Linked DNA regions of Homo sapiens: region 1 is linked to region 2. Evidence: fine-mapped expression QTL. A gene starts in region 2. The other region holds a variant in brackets. All regions are shown on one strand. Distances are from middle to middle. Region 1 has its middle 31 kb from the start of PYM1. Region 2 holds the start of PYM1 (PYM1 exon junction complex associated factor).

The links. PIP is the estimated chance that this variant, and not a neighbour inherited with it, causes the effect. A credible set is the group of variants that fine-mapping cannot tell apart.
Region 1: its variant is the best candidate, but not a certain one, in a credible set for the expression of PYM1 in testis (GTEx, PIP 0.86).

Annotation. Positions count from the first base shown.
Region 1 is chr12:55,894,684-55,900,059 of GRCh38, reverse strand. No RefSeq gene overlaps it. Among named protein-coding and RNA genes, the nearest start is that of PYM1, 31 kb to the left of the region's middle. The variant G/A (reference allele first, on the strand shown) is at 2,231.
Region 2 is chr12:55,925,664-55,931,039 of GRCh38, reverse strand. PYM1 (PYM1 exon junction complex associated factor) reads left to right here and starts at 3,146. Exons shown (of 3, transcript NM_032345.3): 1 at 3,146-3,315. The coding sequence starts at 3,279. It also overlaps a transcript of DGKA not described here. RefSeq lists enhancers at 2,875-3,455, 3,535-3,704, 3,745-3,964, 3,456-4,036 and a silencer at 4,055-4,204.

The DNA.
Region 1 (5,376 bases), 31 kb after region 2:
ATCCACCTGCCTTGGCCTCCCAAAGTGGGATTACAGGCGTGAGCCACCGAGCCCAGCCTGAGGTATTTAATTTTTTTTTTTTTGAGATGGAGTTTTGCTCTTGTTGCCCAGGCTGGAGTGCAGTGTCATGATCTCAGTTCACTTCAATGTCCACCTCCTGGGTTCAAGCGATTCTCCTGCCTCAGCCTCCTGAGTAGTTGGGATTACAGGCGTGCACCACCACGCCTGACTAATTATTTTTATTTTTATTTTTATTTTTAGTAGAGATGGGGTTTCACCATGTTGGCCAGGCTGGTCTCGAACTCCTGATCTCAGGTGATCCACCTGTCTCAACCTCCCAAAGTGCTGAGATTACAGGCGTGAGCCACTGCACCCGGCCAGAGGTATTTAATTTTTAAAAATTGTGAGTTTATGACCAAATTAGCAACACTAATTTCTGCATGTTTGCTGAGACTTCAGTAGACGAATTAGTGTTATAATCAAATGAAACTTAGAACAAATTTAACTTGACATGTTAATTTATATGTTGCCATTAGTGTGCTGAATAGCAACGGGAGTTCTGTACCTTCCTTACTGTTTCTGAAGATAATCTTATTTCACAGCTGCACCTAGGACAACTCTTTTGAAATTTCACCTTCTTAGATGCCACCCCAAGATGGCATTGTGGGGCAAATTAGTGATACATGTAGAGGAACTTACACCCAAAAGATCTGTCACTTAATTTTTACATGTCCTCTGGTTTCCATACCCTCATTTATCGCAGCCTTTTTCTCTAGCTAGCTGTGGGGGTGGAGATGAAAGGAGTGGGAAGTCAGCTGTAATGAACTATCTCAAGAGTTCAGAGTTCTTAGCCTGACTCATAAGCTCACATATAATCTGGCCCTACTTAACTCCAGCGTCATGTCTTTCCATTCTCCAACTCTGATCAAACTCATTGCTGCAGCTATACTGAACTTCTTTCAGTTCTTCAGATGAACCATATTCTGTCTGAGTCTCAGTCCTTTGCCTCTGCTTGTCCCTCTGCCTAGAACACTTCCTGACCCCCTAATGAACTTTTTTTTTAATTGATAGAAACGGGGTTTCACTATGTTACCTAGGGTGGTCTCCTGAGCTAAAGCCACCTGCCTGCTTCAGCCTCTCAAAGTGCTAGGATTACAGGCGTGAGCCACCGAGCCTGGCCCCTAATGAACTTTTTCTTAGCCTTTGGCTCTCTTAAATGTTATTCTCTCTGGGAAGCCTTCCTTTATTCATATATACACACACACACATACATATATATACACATACATATATATGTGTGTGTATATATATATACTATATATAGTGTGTATATATATGCACATATATATGTATATATACACACACACAAATAATATGTGTATATATAAATATATATATATATATATATATTTTTTTTTAGATGGAGTCTTGCTCTATTGCCCAGGCTAGAGTGCAGTGGTGCAATCTTGACTCACTGCAACCTTCGCCTCCCAGGTTCAAGCAATTCTCCTGCCTCAGCCTCCTGAGTAGCTGGGGTAACAGGCACCCAATACCATGCTCAGCTAATTTTTGTATTTGTAGTAAGAGACGAGGTTTCACCATGTTGGACAGGCTGGTCTTGAAGTCTTTTTTTTTTGAGATGGAGTCTCACCCTGTCACCCAGGCTGGAGTGCAGTGGCATGATCCTGGCTCACTGCAACCTCTGCCTCACAGGTTCAAGTGATTCTCCTGTCTCGGCCTCCTGAGTAGCTGGGATTACAGGCGTGTGCCACCACACCGGGCTAATTTTTGTATTTTTAGTAGAGACGGGGTTTCATCATGTTGGCCAGGCTGGTCTCGAACTCCTGACCTCAGGTGATCCGCCTGCCTTGTACTCTCAAATGTTAATTTATGCACCTTTATTTGCTTCCTTTTTAACTCCAAACTTACTTTTTTTTTTTTTTGAGACAGTCTTGCTCTGTCACCCAGGCTGGAGTGCAGTGGCGCGACCTCGGCTCACTGCAGCCTCTGCCTCCTGGGTTCAAGTGATTCTCCTGCCTCAGCCTCCCAAGTAGCTGGGACTACAGGCTCACGCCACCACACCCAGCCTTCTTCTTTTTTTTTTTTTTATTTTTTTTTTTGAGATGGAGTTTTGCTGTTGTTGCCCAGGCTGGAGTGCAATGGTGTGATCTCAGATCACTGCAAACTCTGCCTCCCAGGTTCAAGTGATTCTCCTGCCTCAGCCTCCCAA[G/A]TAGCTGGGATTACAGGTGTGTGCCACCATGTCTGGCTAATTTTGTATTTTTAGTAGAGACAGAGTTTCACCATGTTGGTCAGGCTGGTCTTGAATTCCTGACATCAAGCGATCCACCAGCCTTGGCATCTCAAAGTGCTGGGATTACAGGCGTGAGCCACCATTCCTGGCTTCTTTTTTTTTTTTTTTTTTTTCAGATGAAGTCTCACTCTTGTCATCAGGCTGGAGTGCAGTGGCGTGATCTCAGCTCACTGTCACCTCCACCTTCCAGGTCCAAGCGATTCTCCTATATCAGCCTCCTGAGTAGCTGGGATTATAGGCGTGCACCACCATGCTTGGCTAATTTTTTTTTTTTTTAATTTTTAGTAGATACAGGTTTTACCATATTTGCTAGGCTGGGTTTGAACTCCTGACCTCAAGTGAGTGCCCGCCTCAGCCTTCCAAAGTGCTGGGATTACAGGCGTGAGCCACTGCGCCCAGCTCAAACTTAACTTTTGTAGTAGCATTTATTTTTTATTTTTTTCTAAGATAAAGTTTTGCTTTTGTTGCCCAGGCTGGAGCACAATCTCAGCTCACCATGACCTCCGCCTCCCGGCTTCCAGCAATTCTCCTGCCTCAGCCTCCCGAGTAGCTGGAATTATAGGCATGCACCACCACGCCTGGCTGATTTTTGTATTTTTAGTAGAGACAGGGTTTCTCCACGTTGGTCAGGCTGGTCTCAAACTCCCAACCTCAGGTGATCCGCCAGCCTCAGCCCCACAAAGTGCTGGGATTACAGGCGTGAGCCTCTGTGCCCAGCCAGCCCTCCTCCTTATTAAACTATGAACTCCTCAAGCCCTGGGATTGTATTTATCATCATTGCATCCTCAGTCCCTGACATAGTACATTCTCAAATATTTGACTGAATGAGGCTGCAAGTCATGTGCAGAACAGAAGATGGGGGATAATTAGTGCCTCACGCACAGCTGAACAGTTAATGAGTACTTGACTGAGCACCCCAGTCAAGTGTGAGACCAAAAGCAGCCTGAGTTCCCTTTCATAGGATCCCTATAAAATTATAGAGATTTTATATGTGAGATTTAATTGGCTTATACAGAGATGTTTGATGCTTTGTAAATTTAGATATCTTACAGGAATCTATACTTTAAAAACCATTATTGGCCAGGCTCAGTGGCTCATGCCTGTAATCCCAGCACTTTGGGAGGCCGAGGCGGGTGGATAACCTGAGGTCAGGAGTTCGAGACCAGCCTGGCCAATGTGGTGAAACCCCCTCTTTACTAGGAAATACAAAAATTAGCCAGGTGTGGTGACACGCGCCTGTAATCCCAGCTACCCGGGAGACTGAGGGAGGAGAATTGCTTGAACTGGGAAGCAGAGCTTGCAGTAAGCCAAGTTCATGCCACTGCACTCCAGCCTGGGCAACAGAGCGAGAATCTGTCTCAAAAAAAAAAAAAAGTTAACTGTAAAACAGCCTCAGGAAGATCCTTCAGGAGATATTCTAGAAGGAGGCATTGTTATAGGAGATGACAGCACCATGTGTGTTATTGCCCCAGAAAACCTTCCAGTGGGACAAAATGTGGTGGTGGAAGACAGTGATATTGATGATCCTGATCCTGTGTAGGCCTAAGCTAATATGTCTGTTAGCTTTTGTTTTTGTTTTTGTGAGGCAGCACCTCTCTGTCATTCAAGCTGGAGTGCAGTGGTGAAAACACAGCTAAGTGCAGCCTTGACTTCTGGGCTCAAGTGATCCTTCTGCCTCAGCCTCCTATGTAGCTGGGACCATAGGCTTACTCCATCATGCTCAGTTAATTTTCTTTTTTTTTTGAGACAGAGTCTTGCTCTGTTGCCCAGGCTGGAGTGCAGTGACACGATCTAGGCTCACTGCAACCTCCACCTCCCGGGTTCAAATGATTCTCCTGCCTCAGCCTCCCCAGTAGCTGGGATTACAGGTGCACCACCATGCCTGGCTAATTTTTGTATTTTTAGTAGATACGGGGTCTCACCATGTTGTCTAGGCTGGTCTCTAACTCCTGACTTCAAGTGATCTGCCTGCATCGGCCTCCCAAAGTGCTGGGATACAGGCATGAGCCACCACTCCCGGCCTTCTTTTTTTGAGACAGGATCTCTGTCACCTAGGCTGGAGTGCAGTGGTACGATAACGGCTTACTGCAGCCTTAAATCCTTGGACTCAGGTGATCCTCCCACTTCAGCGTCCTTAGTAGCTGGGACTACAGGTATGTGCCACCACACTCCGCTAATTTTTTAAATTTTTTTCTAGAGATGGGTTCTGACTATGTTGCTCAGGCTGGTCTCAAACTCCTAGGCTCAAGCAGTCAGCCCACCTCAACTTCCGAAAGTGCTGGGATTACAGGCATGAGCCACTACGCCCAGCTCCCATGTCTTAGGGGTTTTTTTTTTGTTTGTTTGTTTTTGTTTTGTTTTGTTTTTTGAGATGGAGTCTCCCTCTGTCACCCAGGCTGTAGTGCAGTGATGCTATCTTGGCTCACTGCAACCTCTGCCTCCTGAGTTCAAGAAATTCTCCTCCCTCAGCCTCCCTGAGTAGCTGGGACTACGGCGTGTGTCACCACGCCCAATTATGTTTTTTTTTTGTATTTTTAGTGGAGACTAAAAGTTACTAAAACATTACTAAAAGTTACTGCGCCCTGTCCCATGTCTTAGTTTTTAACAAAAAAGTTTATACAATACAAATAAAATAAAAATTTTTTAAATAGAAAAAAGAGTCGGGCGTGGTGGCTCACGCCTTGTAATCCCAGCACTTTGGGAGGCCGAGGCGGGTGGATCACTTGAGATCAGGAGTTCAAGACCAGCCTGGCCAACATGGTGAAACCCGGTCTCTACTAAAAATACAAAAAAATTAGCTGGGCACTGTGGTGTGTGCCTGTAATCCCAGCTACTCAGGAGGCTGAGGCAGGAAAATTGCTTGAACCCAGGAGGCAGAGGTTGCAGTGATCCGAGATCACGCCACTGCACTCCAGCTTGGGTAACAGAGCAAGACACCATCTCAAAATAAATAAGTAAATAAATAAAAATAGAAAAAAGCTTATAGAATAAGGATATAAAGAAATATTTTTGTACGGCTGTACAATGTGTTTCTGTTTTAAGCTAAGTGTTTTTTACAAAAGAGT
Region 2 (5,376 bases):
TGGGGGTGGGAAGAAGGGGGAGGGGAGACCTCTGACTAGAAGGGTATATGCATGTGTGGGTATTGTGTATGCATACATACACACACATAATATATACATACTTTTGGTGGGGGTTGGAAAGGGAATGAATACATGAGGCCCTCTAGTGGAAACAGGGATATCTAAGCAGTTCTTGATTGTTTCAAGACAGGCTTGTTGGAACAGACTCCTCCACATTTGCCAGAAATATAGCTGCTGAGTAATAGGGTTTGGGAGTATTGTTGTATCCAAACTGGAGATTTCGGGCATAGGTTGAAGAGGGGTCTGTCTCTCTGCTCCTGTGCCCCTCCAAGTCTCACCCTCTCACCCCCAATCATAAAAAGACAAGGGCCAAAGGCCGGGCGCGGTGGCTCACACCTGTAATCCCAGCACTTTGGCAGGCTGAGGCAGGCGGATCACGAGATCAGGAGATTGAGACCATCCTGGCTAACACGGTGAAAACCTGTCTCTACTAAAAATACAAAAAATTAGCCGGGCGTGGTGGCACATGCCTGTAGTCCCAGTTACTCGCGAGGCTGAGGCAGGAGAATCGCTTGAACCTGGGAGGCAGAGGTTGCAGTGAGCCGAGATCATGCCACTGCACTCCAGCCTGGGTGACACGAGCAAAACTCTGTCTAAAAAAAAAAAAAAAAAAAAAAAAAAACAAGGCCCTTGACACTCCCCATCCTGTCTTTACAGTATTTTCTTCACTGTTAGCAAAGCTTCATCTCTCCTTCCTCTATGACCTCCTTAGTCATAGTAAACAAACTCTTCTGAAGGCCTTTTATACACTAAGTCCTGTACTTAGTTCTGCAATACAAGCAAAAACATAGTCCAGTTTAGGGACTATATCAATGAGTGGTGCAATGTGTGTAAAGCCTCTCTGCTCTGAGCTACTTTAAACAAACATACAATGTAAGAATAGGTCCCCTAACACCTCTGCCTATCAGTTTTCTGTCCCTGGATCTTTCATTTAGAAATCTTGGAACGATATTAATCTCTAAGGCACTCAGCTTTCCTTGCAAAGAATGCTCAAAGTAATGCCACCCTATGTATTACCTGTGTTTCTCACTCTATCGTCTTTAGATATGTCCCTAAATAAAGTTGAAGACACTCCTTTTAAGATAGTTTTTGGTACTTCAAAGTGGGGTGTAATGTTATCTCTCGAATAAGGAATAAGGTGGAATCAGTCTTACTCTAGACTTCTTTGTGTCTTCTTTAGGATCTGTGCTCCATCATACCCCAAGTCAGTTACTGGGGGGTGTGGGTGGGGGAAGAAAAGCCAAGAAACATCTAAGAAGGAGGCGTTTAATGCCTACGGTTCCAGGTGCTCATTTCTTTAATCAACCACATCATAAAAATCAGAAAGAAAGAAACCGCAATGAACAAAGGGAAAGGAAAAAACAACAGCCTGTTCTCCCCGGCCTTTTTTGCCCTGTTCCTCCTCAGGGTGGGGGGCCACATCCGGGGCCCCGGGTTGGGTCCCAGGCAGGTCTACTAAGCAGACAATTGAGTTTCACTTCCTGTCAACCCTAGTGCTGAGGCAGGATGTCTGGGGGTGGGAAGGGGGCCTAGGGTTGGTAGTGAACAGGGGCGACTTTAGGTTTCCCTCCTGCACAAAGGTCTATTGAGCAGCCTCTGAAAGCTGCAGAGACCACTCCTGAGGTAGTTCAGTCAAGACCAACGTATCCCATTAGTTCTTAGAGGCTTCATCCCACACTCTCACGTCTAATCATAACAAGGTTAAGGACAAGATGTTAGACCCTGCAGGGCTGAAGTACAATCGGTGAAAAGAGAGCAAGGGTTTAAGACCACAGTGTCACAACACTTGCAATAACAGTGTATCGTATGCAAATACTTTTTATTTATTTATTTTGAGACTGAGTCTTGCTCTATAATACAAGCTGGAGTGCAGTGGCACGATCTTGGCTCACTGCAACCTCCACCTCCCAGGTTCATTCCTCAGCCTCCCGAGTAGCTGGGATTACAGGCACTCGCCACCACACCCGGCTAATTTTTGTATTTTTAGTAGAGATGGGATTTCACCATGTTGGCCATGGCTGGTCTCGAACTCCTGACCTCAAGTGATCTGCCCACCTGGGCCTCCCAAAGTGCTGGGATTACAGGCATGAGACACCGCACCCGGCCTGGAAATACTTTTTAAATGAGCCCCACCCCCAGACATTCTGAATTGGCCTCTAGTGGAAGTCACAGACATGGAGGATGGGAAGGAAGGCAAGCTGCGGCCCCCAGAAAACTTCTGAGGCCTAATTTGTCTTATAAAGGTCCTAGTCAGCCATTGCTCAGTTTTTTAGTTTTTTTTTTTTTTTTTTTTTTTTTTTTTTGAGACGGGGTCCCACTCTGTCGTCCAAGCTGGAGTGCAGTGGAGCGATCTTGGCTCACTGCAACCTCCGCCTCCCAGATTCAAGAAATTCTCTGCCTCAGCCTCCCGAGTAGCTGAGATTACAGGCACCCGCCACCACGCCCGGCTAATTTTTTTGTATTTTTAGTAGAGACGGGGTTTCGCCATCTTGGCCAGGTTGGTCTTGAACTCCGGACCTCGTGATCCACCCGCCTTGGCCTCCCAAAGTGCTGGGATTACAGGCGTGAGCAACCGCGCCTGGGTTTTGTTTTGTTTTTTAAATGGGACATGCTGCCTAGTGTTGGAGGTAGTCACCAATACTTACCTCCTGCCTCCTCCCTGGTTCCAGGGGTACTGCTGGACATTAAACTAAGCCAAAGTGGGGATATAAGCAGGAAGGTAAAAGGGTTGATAAGGAAAAAGCTATATGAGGGTGGAGGAGGGCAGAGTTGACACCTGAGGAGAGGAACCTGCAGCCGGGCTCCTCTCAGGCTGTAGGGGAAACAAGTTTAACAGGACTTAGCCCTGAAGGAACAACAGTTGCTGAAATGGGCGGCGGAGGGAGACCATATGGGTTCGTCTGCAGAATAGGGAGGTACGGCGCAGGGCAGGACTACAAATGGAGTGACACTACGGGACCGGATTATTGGCGAGTTGCCCCGCTTTAGATCCTCAGCGGTTGGACGAGTTTAATTAGAATACTAAGTAGGTCCGCCCAGAAGCTTTCACCCTGCCCTCTGACCCTAGGGCCCAGCCCGAGGAGGCACTCAGGGTTAGGAGGTCTGGGCGAGAAGCAACTAGGGCCCTCATCACTTCGCCGCCGAATCCCCGGCGCCGCCCAGCGGGGCAGAGCCAGGCCAGGGCCGCCCGCCCAACCTGGTCCGCTGCCTCTTCGGCCATGGAAGCTGCCGGCAGCCCTGCGGCTACGGAGACAGGTGACCGACCCGCGGCGCCCTCCGCCTTGCACGCCCCTCCCGCGGGTCTCTGGTGGTTGAGTGGGTTGGCCGACAGCAATCGGCACACGAATTCGACCTCCCCACCTTCTTAGGGTTAGATAGGGTCTCCAACCGTCCCTAGAAACACTTGTGCGCCCCAGTGCGTTCCTGGAGTTTGTCTGCTCCACGTCACCAAGCCGCTCTGAGATCTGGGTGCAGGCCAGAGCCTGGATATTCTTCCTTTCTTCATTTATAAGGCCCCCTTTTTGGGTGCAGGTGGGCCTTGCGCCCTTTTCCCTCGCAGGTCCTGGACGTACGAGGAGTTCCTGGGGATGAGAGGGACTGTGCCTCGGAACTTCTCTTGGCTCCCTGAGGACTGTTTTACAGGCAGCAAGCGCTCAGTAATGGTATCGGTGGCAGTAAAAAGCCCACGGCTTTATTTTATTAACTATTTCAGCTTCTCCACTCTTCCTCCTCCTCCACCTCCGCCCATGAAATGGTGCACTCTCCCTTTAAGACTAAGATGGTGGCTTGCTACGATCGGGACTCCACTTCCGGTGGGGAGGGGGGCGGGACCCCAGCCCGCTCACGCCGGAAGTGGTTTGCGTTTTCAAGATGGCGACTCCCTATGTTACTGACGAGACCGGCGGTGAGTGCGGGAGGCGCGGAGCCGCTTCTCTCCGGGCTCTCGGGGCAGGGGTTCGGACTTGGAAAGGGGTCTGTGCCCCGCCCATCCCGGGGCCCCTCCTTTGCCCCGCCCCCCGGACCGCCTTCCCCATTCATTCTCTCCTACGGGGTGTCTCCTGCGCCCCCTTCTGGTCTCGTGTTTGGGGTCTCTGCTTCCGGTCACCCAAACCCTGGGGTCCTTCAGTGCTGGTCCCTGCTTCAGGACCCTCACGGGCCCTTAGCTTTTCTCCAGCAGTTGGACCACTCATATCTCTTTTAGGTTCTTCAGGCTTGGGGGCTTCTACACTCTCATTTCCCTCCAGTTCCTGCCCTCCTTCTTTTCCCCTCCCCCATCTCAGCTATACTTGGTTTCTGCCCTACCCCAGTCCCGTTTTCATTATTTTTCTCGAAGCTTTATTTGCTGAAGACCTCCTCGTTTCTACATAGTACCTTTTCCTCTCCCGTATCTTCATTTGTTGGGTCACTGAGGTTTAGAGGTGTGAAGGGAAGAGGACCCTAATACAACTTTCAGCTTGAGTTTTCTCCCTGATGGAGCCACCCTTCGCTACCTTCTCCCGTGATGGTGATAGAAATTGAGGGGTCTAAGGTGGGAAAAGGCAAACAGGAAAGTATCTAGTGGCTTTTCTCCGAAGCCCTTTGACAAGTGAATAAAACCCACTATTCCTTCTGGCTAGAGAAGAATTTGCAGCCTGGCTGGCCGAGATGCTGAAGTGTCTGCTGTGTATGTAAGGTGTATGTGTTGGAAACGGAGAATCACAGCTTTTATCATGGTTTTGTCCCTTCCTAATGGCCTCATCTTTAGGAAAATATGCATAGTAGTAATAGCTACTCAATGATGATCAAATAATATATGTAAAAGCAATTTATAAAATACTGTGCAAGTGCAAAGTGTTTCTGTTTTTGTAGCCCTCATATGTGTAGTCTGTAGTCTGTAGAAGCAACAGTGTGCCTGTGCCTTGGTACACACGGTGTTTTAAAATGTGCCATTTTGCTTCTTGCTCTGCTGCTTTCCATGTTCCTTACACCTCAGCCCACCTATTTTATGGTATCTGATGACAACCCAGGTTGCTGCTACTTCTCCCCAACCTCACAATTTAAAGTGGTACTACCTCTTTCCTTCTGTTCTCTACCCAGTAGCTCCTTCATGAATTACCAACTTTTAATGTGTGTTTTGAAAATACTACTTATCCAGTATACTTCTCTTTACTCTTAATCATTTTCTTTACCCTGACTCCGTGAAAATCCAGGTATCACATCTTACCTTACCTTGTCACTAAAAGCTGTTTTCTGTTTTCCGTGACTATGTGGAAGAGAAAAAGGAATAAACTGCTTTTTTGTTTTCCTTTACTATGTCCAGATCATTGATCTACCACT